2 separate regions of the Homo sapiens genome follow, and region 1 is linked to region 2. The links come from fine-mapping of genetic effects on gene expression. A gene starts in region 2. The other region holds a variant in brackets. All regions are shown on one strand. Distances are between the middles of the regions.

What was found. PIP is the estimated chance that this variant, and not a neighbour inherited with it, causes the effect.
Region 1: its variant is the best candidate, but not a certain one, in a credible set for the expression of SLC16A11 in whole blood (INTERVAL, PIP 0.65).

What each region holds. Positions count from the first base shown.
Region 1 is chr17:7,128,622-7,133,989 of GRCh38, forward strand. It overlaps LOC105371512 (a long non-coding RNA gene), which reads left to right and starts at 2,626. Exons shown (of 3, transcript XR_934191.3): 1 at 2,626-2,707. RefSeq lists enhancers at 2,337-2,874, 5,005-5,114. The variant T/C (reference allele first, on the strand shown) is at 2,641.
Region 2 is chr17:7,040,760-7,046,127 of GRCh38, forward strand. SLC16A11 (solute carrier family 16 member 11) reads right to left here and starts at 3,333. Exons shown (of 5, transcript NM_001370549.1): 1 at 3,016-3,333; 2 at 2,553-2,760; 3 at 2,171-2,314; 4 at 1,237-2,004; 5 at 862-1,149. The coding sequence starts at 2,754. The coding sequence ends at 920. It overlaps LOC124903909 (a long non-coding RNA gene), which reads left to right and starts at 2,308. Exons shown (of 2, transcript XR_007065598.1): 1 at 2,308-2,481. RefSeq lists silencers at 1,210-1,279, 1,390-1,779, 2,680-2,739, 2,810-2,939.

The DNA.
Region 1 (5,368 bases), 88 kb after region 2:
GACTCGTGCTTTCTTTTTCAGTTGAAATGTATGAAATAATTTGATTAGGTTTGTAAACAATGTTGGAATGTTGAAGAGTCCTTGAGATTCCTTATGAATATTAATTTGCCTTATTTACTTAGTTTTTGATTGTTAAAATCAAATCCTTAAAATACACCAAATGTGTAAACTCAGTTTAAAAATGTTTCTAGGCATTTAACTGCATTGTGAATGAAGCTGATTATTTAAGAGAGTTTCGTGTCTTTGACTTTCATTATTATGCAATAATCAGTGAGAAGGTAAAGTCGGTGGCTCTTATTTAGCACAATTTATTAAAAGAATAATTACGGCCAGGCACGGTGCCTCACACCTGTAATCCCAGCACTTTGGGAGGCCGAGATGGGTGGATCCCCTGAGGTCAGGAGTTCGAGACCAGCCTGGACAACATGGTGAAACCCAGTCTCTAATAAAAATACAAAAAGTTAGCCTGGCGTGGTGGCACTTGCCTGTAGTCCCAGCTACTCTGAAGGCTGAGGCAGGAGAATCGCTTGAACCCAGGAGGCGGAGGTTGCAGTGAGCTGAGGTTATGCCATTGCACTCCAGCCTGGGTGACAGAGTGAGACTCTGTCTCGAAAAAAAAAAGAATAACTACTTTTATAAGCTGAACTTACAAGAAGTTTAAGGAAAAATTAGATTTAAAATGTACTTTAACAAACTGACAATTTCTTTAAGGAAACAAAATGATAAACAGTTCATTCAGTACACAAATACCAGCATGAACATGAAAAGCTCTCCTTGACTTTAGGGTCCACATGCCAAATGGCAGGGTCCAAGGCAGGCCACCGGAGACAGCGCCCCACCCATGCCAAGACCACCTGCAGCAGCGCCACCCCGGACCCCCCTTTCACCAGGCAAGTGGACAGGGCAAACATGGACAGGCCCCCGGCACCAGTCTGAGAGGCCCAGAGGCTAAGAGGGTGGGCTTCATGCCCCGGCTACCCGTGTCCCCACATCAGGAGACTGTGCACCCCCACCACACCCCTCTCCTCTTTCCTCCTTGCTCTGTTTTTCTCCACAGCACTCATCGCCATTTGATAATGAATGTTATGTATTTCGGTTATTATCTTTCTGCACATACAGCCAGGCATGGAGACTTAGGCTCACTCAGTCCTAAATCCCCAGCACCTAGAAAGGTACCTGTGCTTGGTCTGTCCCCATAAATCTGTGTTGCATGAAGGCACTGATGGCCTCAGCTCCTGCTTTGTGCCCCTCTCCCTGTCTGGACTGCCAGCTCCCTGACCTCAGGAACTACCTTACTCACCACTCAATGTCCAAGCCCAGCACCAACCCAGAAAAAAAAAAGAGTCAGACGCATGTAAAAGTGACTCCCTGTGGGAAGCCAGGCAGGGCCTTCAGAATCAAACGTGATCTTGAATTCTGGTTCTGCCACTTACCAGCCATAAGGGAACCTTGGATAAGTGACTCAAGGTTTCTGATATTCAGTTTCTTCAGCTGGAAATGGGTATAATAATACCTGCCTCACTCGGTTCTTGTTGGTATTAAACAGGTTAATGTAAGGCAAAGTGTCTAACACTGAGCCTTTTTTTTTTTTTTTTTTTTTTTTGTATAAGCAAAGCCCTCACATTGTAGGTGCTCAGTGAAAATCAATTCCTTAACTCTCATGGTAGGTACTCAAAGAAAATCAATTACTGGCTGGGCACTGTGGCTCACGCCTGTAATCCCAACACTTTGAGATGCCAAGGTGGGTGGATCACGAGGTCAGGAGATCAAGACCATCCTGGCCAATGTGGTGAAACCCCGTCTCTACTAAAAATACAAAAATTAGCTGGGTGTGGTGATGCGCGCTTGTAATCCTAGCTACTCGGGAGGCTGAGGCAGGAGAGTCGCTTGAACCCGGGAGGCGGAGGTTGCAGTGAGCCGAGATTGTGCCACTGCACTCCAGCCTGGCAACAGAGCAAGACTCCATCTCAAAAAAAAAAAAAAGAAAAAAGAAAAGAAAATCAATTCCTTTACTCATTTTAACTTCCTCCAGTTGCTGCAGAAAAAGCTCTGCTTCCCTCCCCCTGAGCTTCAGGTGCTTGACTTATATTTACTCCCCTGGGGAATGACAGGAGTCAATATGGGCGGGCTGGAGAACCTGGCACCTGAGCCCCAGAGGAAGGCCCCAGCTTCCTGCAGCTCGGGCTGGCGGATGGGAGCAGAAGCATCAGTTCCTGGTTGGGAATTTGGAGACACCAACAATTTGGGGAACTTCAAAAGCAGGAAGCAAAAAAGATGTGAGAGAAAGGGGAAACACCAACCCTCCTAGACAGCCCCCCTCCCCACCCCCAATCACAAAAATGCGGAGCCCAGGAGAGCCAACTCCTGGGAAGGGACGAATTCCCAGTTCCTACCCCGGCCCATCTCCAGCCTGGTCCAGAACTCAGTCCTGAACCCAGCTCCCGGCTCCCACACCTCCATCAGCCCCAACCCCACTAGCAGCCTGTCCCAGGCCCAATTCTAACAAAGACAAGGGGTGGGACCCTGGAGAAAGTGGGGTTCCCCAAATCACGAGAGAATTCCCTGGCCTCTCTGCCATCTGTTTCCACTTCCCCTGGTCTCTGTCTTCCTGTGTTTATCTGCCTCATTCCGTACTTCGGC[T/C]GTTCCCTCCTCCACAGGCTCTCTCTCTGCCTGTCTCTGGCTCATTCACTCACATATTACACAGCAGGTATGTGCTGGGGAAGAGGGAGCAGGCCAGTGAGTGAAAGCAGAGGAGGCAGAGGATGGGGCCAGAGAGGGAGGCAGGGGCTGGATCACGGGGACCTCCAGGGCATGGAAGGCCGGAAGAGTTTTCTTCTCTGTGAAATAGGGAATTATTGATGAGTTAAACAAGGCGACACATAGCCTGATTACATTTTTTAAAGTCACCTTCAGGCTGCTGTATGAGGATGAACCTTTAGGGGTGAGAGTTGGCAGGGGATGTTGTTGCCAAAGTCCCAAAAGAGAGATGACGATGGTGTTTGGGACTGGAGGTGGCTGTGACAACAGTGAGAAGATGTCAGATTAAAAGCAGATCATGTCAGGGTGCGGTGGCTCACGCCTGTAACCCCAGCACTTTGGGAGGCTGAGGTGGGTGGATCCTCTGAGGTCAGGAGTTCAAGACCAGCCTGGCCAACATGGAGAAACCCCATCTCTACTAAAAATACAAAAAAAAAAAAAAATTAGCTGGGCATGGTGGCAGGCGCCTGTAATCACAGCTACACAGGAGGCTGAGGCAGGAGAATCGCTTGAACCCGGGAGGCGGAGGTTGCAGTGAGCCAAGATTGTACCACTGCACTCCAGCCTGGGCGCCAAGAGCGAAGTCTCCGTCTCAAAAAACAAAAGGGTAGATAGTGAATCTTGGAGGAAGAACCATCAACTCAGCACTGGCTGGGGAGGGCCTGTGGGCGAGGAAAGGAAGGCTTCCTGAAGAAGCTTTGTATGCTGCTGAGAAAGTGACAGCAGGGTTAACTGAGCGGGAAGAGGGGGCAGGAATGGGTTAAACGCGCAATGTAGAAAGAGGAACTGAAAGGGCCGGGCGCGGTGGGTCATGCCTGTAATCCCGGCACTTTGGGAGGCCCAGGGAGGCAGATCACTTGAGGTCAGGAGTTCGAGACCAGCCTGGCCAACATGGTGAAACTCCATCTCTACTAAAAATATAAAATTAGCCGGGCGTGGTGGCACGTGCCCGTAATCCCAGTTACTCGGGAGGCTGAGGCAGGAGAATCCCTTGAACCCAGGAGGCGGAGGTTGCAGTGAGCTGAGATCACGTTATTGCACTCTAGCCTGGGCAACAAGAGCAAAACTCCATCTCAAAAAAAAAAAAAAAAAAGAAAGAAAGAAAGAAAGAAAAGAAAAGAAAAAGAGGAACTAAAAAGAGCTCAATTTGGGATAGACGGTGTTTGTGTTTGAGGTCCCTGTTAGACCCTAAGGTGAGATGCCAGGGCAGAAGCTGAATAAACAATCCAGGCAGGAACACACACTCACACACATTGACCCCAATCCCATGAGCCCCATTGTCCTGAAGACACATCCCTGCTCCTGCCCAGCTGGTCCCTGACCCCTGACCCCTGGCTATGCTGGCCTCAGATCTGTGTCTCCTTCTCAAGTCATTGGCCCCCAGGGCCACTGTCCCTCCGTCTCCACTGGGTGCACTGGAAAGGCAGGGTGAGGTACAAGAAGCCCCATTTAAAACCATGAAATCAGCAGCTCAAACACCAGAAAGTCCCCAGCTTTTGCAACAGCTCATAAGGACTGGTGTTTCCTGCGAGCAGTGACACCCTGCAGGTTTCTAAACTCTGCTTCTCTTTGTTTTGTAAAGCAGTGTTCTATCAGTCCCGGAAAGCCCCTGGAGTGGATCACGCCTCCCTAATCTACCGTGTTCTGCATTTATCTGCATCTGCAATGTTTGTTGTGGTCTTGTTGCTAGAGGCCTCGTTCCCCCTGCCTGGTTTATAAAATCCATGTAACCCAGGATTTTTTGTGGTGTGGATACTCTACATTGAAAGGACATGCATGCTTTCTATTTTATTTATTTATTTATTTATTATTTTTATTTTTATTTTTATTTTTGGAGACGGAGTCTGGCTCTGTTGCCAGGCTGGAGTGCAGTGGCGCGATCTCGGCTCACTGCAACCTCCACCTCCCAGGTTCAAGCGATTCTCCTGTCTCAGCCTCCCGAGTCGCTGGGACTACAGGCGCTCGCCGCCACGCCTGGCTAATTTTTTTTTTTTTTTTTTTTTTTTTTTTGTATTTTAGTAGAGACGATGTTTCACCGTGTTGCCCAGGCTGGTCTCCAACTCCTGAGCTCAGGCAATCCGCCCGCCTTGGCCTCCCAAAGTGCTAGGATTACAGGCGTGAGCCACCGTGCGCGGCCGACATGCATGCTTTTGAAATACCACAAGGGCACTGGGGACTGGAAACAGGAACGGAAACAGGAAAGGTTCCCTTGTCCCCGTCGCAGGGCGTGTGACAGCGGGAATAGCTCGTTTTTTCAGAATCCCACTGCTCAAACCTCTAGGGGGAGCCTGCTGACGGGCAGCTTGTGGGGCTCCAACCCCACGGCAGCATCTGGGGGTGAATGCTTACAGCTCCTGAAGCCCCAGTGGGCGTGTGTGACGGGGGCTCTTTCAGTTTTGCCGTCTGTAGGCGGCTTGTGTTCATCAGCTCTATTAGACCTTCTGCCTCATCACAAGCACAGAGGGCTTTCTGTGTCCTGGGGTTCCTGCCTTGGTGTACTGGAAGAATGGGATCACATGTGGGCTTGGAGAATGAGTGTAAGGTTTTTTATGGAGTGGTAGTTCTCAGCGAGGTGGATGGGGTGGCCAGAAGGGGGATGGAGTGGGAAGGC
Region 2 (5,368 bases):
GCCTGGAAGTGGAGGAGAGTGTCCAGGAGCTCCGATGACCCAAGGCATTTTAACCCTGGAATCTGCTCTCCAGGCTACCACCACATACCTCCCTCTTCCCCATTATCCCTGTGGCTTAGAAAAGAAATTGAGGGCTGGGCATGGTGGCTCACGTCTGTAATCCCAACACTTTGGGAGGCCGAGGCGGGTGGATCACGAGGTCGGGAGTTTGAGACCAGCCTGGCCAAGATGGTGAAACCCCGTCTCTCCTAAAAATACAAAAATTAGCCGGGTGTGTTGGCGTGTGCCTGTAGTTGCAGCTACTGGGAAGGCTGAGGCAGGAGAACTGCTTGAACCCAGGAGGCGGAGGTTGCTGTGAGCCAAGATCGCGCCACTGCACTCCAGCCTGGGCAACAGAGGGAGACTCTGTCTCAAAAAAAAAAAAAAAAAAAAAAAGAAGGAAAGAAAAGAAATTGAGAGAATGCTGAGGACACAGGGTATAGATGTGTGAATAGCTTTGATAGAGCTGAAGTCTGGGCCTAGGATTCTTGTATTTCCCTCAGGCCCATAGAAGGAGATTGAAATGCAGGGAAGAGTTAAGTCTGGGAGGTCTGGGAACTAGGGTAAGGGACATGAAGATGGGGCAGATAGCACCCACTAGCAACCCGCCCCCAACCCCAGCAACACACTGAAACTGGCTGCCAGACAACTTCGCAAAGATTCCCTGTTACGGCCAGGACTTGGGCAAAGAGAAATGGATTGGCTGGACAGTCACCCTTCTTCATACCCAGGGCCTTCTGGGATCCTGTTCCTTTGAACCAGCCTTTCTGGCTGTCTTATGTAGAATATTTTCAGGGTCCTAGATTGGTGAACAGTTGGAGGTTTCAGGAAAACCCGATAAAAATTCTTTATTGGGGGAGGGGCTCAAACAAGAAAATAATCAACAAGTGGTGTCCAGAGTGGAGCCAGGGCCTCCTGGGGACAGCAAGACTGCCTGGGGAGCGGGAAGCAGCTCCCCCGTCTCTGGGGGAGGCGTGGCTGGAGGGGAGGCTGGACCACAGGAGGGCAGCGCCCTGGGCAACCCTATGTAGATGAAGCTGCCGGAGAGGATCAAAGAACCAGACAGGAGGAAAGAGGCGGTGAAGTCTCCTGTCTCATCCCTTAGGAAGCCTGAGGAGATGGGTAAGGGCATTTAGAAGCCTCGAACCCCAGGGGCAGAGGATAGTTGTAGGCAGATCTGTGAGCTCAGGTCCTTACCTGACAGGGGAGGGCCCAGGAGCCCCCCGAGGCTCATCAGCATCATCACCAGCCCTGTGGCCTGCACCACACCTCCGACGCCCACCAGCCCGGGGAGTACACCGAAAACCAGCGGGGCGTAACTCCCCGCGCTCAGCCCATAGGCCACAGCCGCGGCCAGCAGGGGACCCCCCCAGCTCTCTTCGCCGCCCACCACGGGCACCAGCCCCACCACCCACAGCCCCAGCCCAGTCAGAGCCCCGAATACGGCCAGCAGCCGCGGGAGGGGCACCCAGCCTTGGTCTGCCAGCCACCCGCAGACCAGCCGGGCGCCCGCATCCCCCATCGCAGCCACGGCCACCACCAGCGCTGCTCCGTATCCCCCCAGGCCCCGGTCTAAAGCGTGGGGAGCCAAGTGCACGTAAGGAACGAAGTACCCGCCCCCAACCAGGGCTGTGCCTAGAGCAAAGATTGAGAAGGCCCGGCGTGTGAACAGACTCAGGCCGAGGGCAGCTAGGGGACTACGCGGTGGGGCTGGGGGGTCTCCAGGAAGGACCAGGGGTAGCAGCAGGGCGCCACAGGGGGTGAGGTGGAGGGTGATCGCGCCGAGGAGGAGCAGAGCGCCCCGCCAGCCGAAAGTATCGAGAAGAAGCTGCAAGGCGGGCGCCAGGAGCAGCGAGGAGGCCCCGTTGCCGGTGAGCGCCAGCCCCACCGCCAAGACTCGACGGCGGGAGAAGTAACGCGAGAGGGTGCCTAGGGCGGGGGCGAACACCAGGGCCCAACCAAAGCCTGCGAATGAATAGGAGGGGATGGGGGCCGGCACTGGGGACGCCCGCCCCAGCATTCCCAGCCCGGCTCTCCGCACCAGGCCCCCGCCTCGTTCGCTACCCCAGATCCCAACAAGCTCCTGTCACCTCCTTCACCCTGAATGACCCGGGCATCCCACTTCCCTCACCAGCGAGGAGGCCCAGGCCGAGGTAGAGATGCAGCAGATCGCTGGCGAAAGCCGAGAAGACGAAGCCCAGCGAGGCGAGGACGCCCCCAACCATCACCACGGGGCGGGCCCCCCAGCGCGTGCTCAGGGCGCTGCCCACGGGGCCTGAAAGGGGGCGGAGTCAACGGAAGACACGCCCCCGGGCCCCCAAACTCTCTCCAACACTTCTCATTGGCTGTTTGCCTCCCTCGAACTAATGGTTCTTCTCCTTGACCTCAAGATGCACTCTTTTCTAGAGCCGGTTGCCCTTTCTCAGGTTGTCGGGTAATCAGGTGGGTCTCCCATCCCTCCACTCACGGCTCCTCCTCCCCGTTCCTGTCTCCCGCCTCAGGGCCCCCCTCACTGGCTGCCTGCTGCACGGCCAGGGCCAGGGCGCTGATCCACGCAGTGTCCTGGGCGCTTCGGTCAAAGTGCTCGGCAAGGTCAGGGAAGGCAAGGCCCAGCGAGCGCAGCAGCCCGTAGGACAGCCCGTTTATCGCGAAGGCTGCGGCCGCCACCACCCAGCCCCAGCCCCCATCCGGGGGTCCGGCGGGCTGGGGGGTCATCGCCGTCTGCGGGGTGGGGAAACATCTGTGAGAGAAGCCTCCACGCCTGTGCTTCCGCTGGGGAGCTGGCATCCCTGAGATCCAGCCTCTGGCTGCTCGCCCGGGGTGGGCCCGTCACTCCGAGCGCGATGGCGCGGGGCGGAGGGAGCCGGAGCCTGGCCTAGGGCTGGAACTCCCGGGTCCGCGCGAGGTACGGGGACGGGGACAGCCAGATCCCCAGGCCCGAGGTTCCCCGTCCCACGCACACTCCTTCCCCCTTACCCGACCTCTCCGGGCGGTGCGGGGAGGGGAAGGGTGAGGAAGGGCTGGGCCCGGCTTTCTCTCTGCTTCCCAGGCGGGCGGGGGCCCCGAAGGGGAGCGAGGGCAGCGATGGAGCCCAACTTGGACGGGCTCTCTCGGTAAACAGAGATCACCACAGGGGCCTGAGCCACCTGGGACGCGGGGTGTACGGAGGGCGGGGGCGAGCTGAAACAGCCAATCCGGCAAGCCGCGCGTGAGGCCAGACGCCAGTCCCACGGGGATTGAATTATGTACACACACAACCCCCAGGCCCGGGGGAGGGGGGAGCGGCGAGAAATGAATGCAGAGGGGCCCTGCCCTACTCACACGCATGCACCTGCCGCCTGCTGCGCGCAGGGGAGACACGTGGATTGCAAACCCCAGCGAGCCCAGGGTCCACCGCCAACGCGTGGAAATAGGGATGGTCCCCAAAACCTGAGGGGATGAGTAGTTTTGTTCTCAGGAACGTTGCCGAGGACCAGGTAAATCTCGGATATCAATCAGATCACAGACCTCCACCAAGTGCCAGCTCTGTGCTTAGAATAACAGACCCCCAGGCCGGGCGCGGTGCAAGCCTGTAATCCCAGCACTTTGGGAGGCCGATGTGGGTGAATCACCTGACGTCAGGAGTTCGAGGCCAGCCTGACCAACATGGCGAAACACCATATCTACTAAAAATACAAAAAAAATTAGCCGGGTGTGGTGGCGGGCGCCTGTAGTCCCAGCTACTTGGGAGGCTGAGGCGGGGAATCGCTTGAACCCGGGAGGCAGAAGTTGCAGTGAGCCAAGATCATGCCACTGCACTCCAGCCTGGGTGACAGAGAAAGACTCTGTCTCAAAAATAAATAAATAAACAAAAATAAAATAAATAAAATAAAATAACAGGTCCTCAAGGACAGAGGGATGAAACACGACTCCCTCAATGTGAAGACCTGCAGTGTACCAGGCACCGTTTACACATGCTATCACTTCATCTTATGATAACCCTATGAAGAAGGTGTCGCTTTTCTTTTTTTTTTTTTTTAGATGGAGTTTCACTCTGTAGCCCAGGCTGGAGTACAGTGGCGAGATCTCGGCTCATTGCAACCTCTGCCTCCTAAGTTCAAGCCATTCTCCTGCCTCAGCCTCCTGAGTAGCTGGGATTACGGGCGCCTGCCACCACTCCCAGCTAATTTTTGTATTTTTTAGTAGAGATGGGGTTTCGCCATGTTGGCCAGGCTGGTCTGGAACTCCTGACCTCAGATGATCCGCCCACCTCGGCCTCCCAAAGTGCTGGGATTACAGGAGTGAGCCAACGCGCCTGGCCGATGTCGTGCCTCTTTTATAGATGCAGTAACTGAAGCTCTCAGGGAAAAAATGGTATGGATATTTGAATTTAGGTCTGTCCAACTGTGGACCTACAAGGAGAACAATCCCAGGACTGAAACAAAATCTGGCACAGTTAAGGGAAAGATCCTGGATACAGCTTGAAGCAAACTGCCCTGGAAAGGGTGGAACCATTGCAGGGACAGAAAACTTATGAGTCTAAAATAAGGGGTCACTGGGAATAGAAAGGATTCTTGAGATCAGAATCTCTAAACACTTAGGTTAGAATTTTATTTTTTATTATGTATGTATGTATGTATGTATGTATGTATGTATGTATGTATGTGTGTGTGTATTTATTTATAGAGACAGGGTCTTGTCCAGGCTGAAGTGTAGTACTGCCATTATGGCTCACTGCAGCCTCCACCTCCCAGGCTCAAGCAATACTCCACCTCAGCCTCCCGAGTAGCGAGGACTACAGGCTCCACACCACCATGCCTGGCTAAATTTGTTCATTTTTTTTGTAGAGAGGGGGTCACAGCATGTTGCACAGGCTGGTCTCAAGCTCCTGGACTTAAGCAATCCTTCCACCTCGGACTCCCAAAGTGCTGGGATTACAGTCTACCATGCCTGGCCAGGTTACAATTTTAAAAGCAAAGTAAAAAATCAGGTCATTGAAGCCAGGTATTGATTTTTTGAAAAACTTTATAGAAAATGTCCTTTTTTGATAGGTTGACATTCTTTACCTCAGCTCTTTGAATTCAGAGATGTGTTCTTTGGTTTAATTATTAAACAATATGATAGAACATTCAGCAACTTAAGTTTGGAGCATGCATCCATTGAGCCACATGATGGCAGTGTTTCCTAATTATTGGGAAAGAATCTGCACGTAAAGACAAGAAAAACAGCTTCTTAAGGAGCAAAACTGTAAACATAAAAGACACAGCATGACTATAGGCAATGGCTCTCCATTGCCTATAGACGGGAAAAATTACATTTCTCTATTTGTACAGGTCTTTTACAATAATCA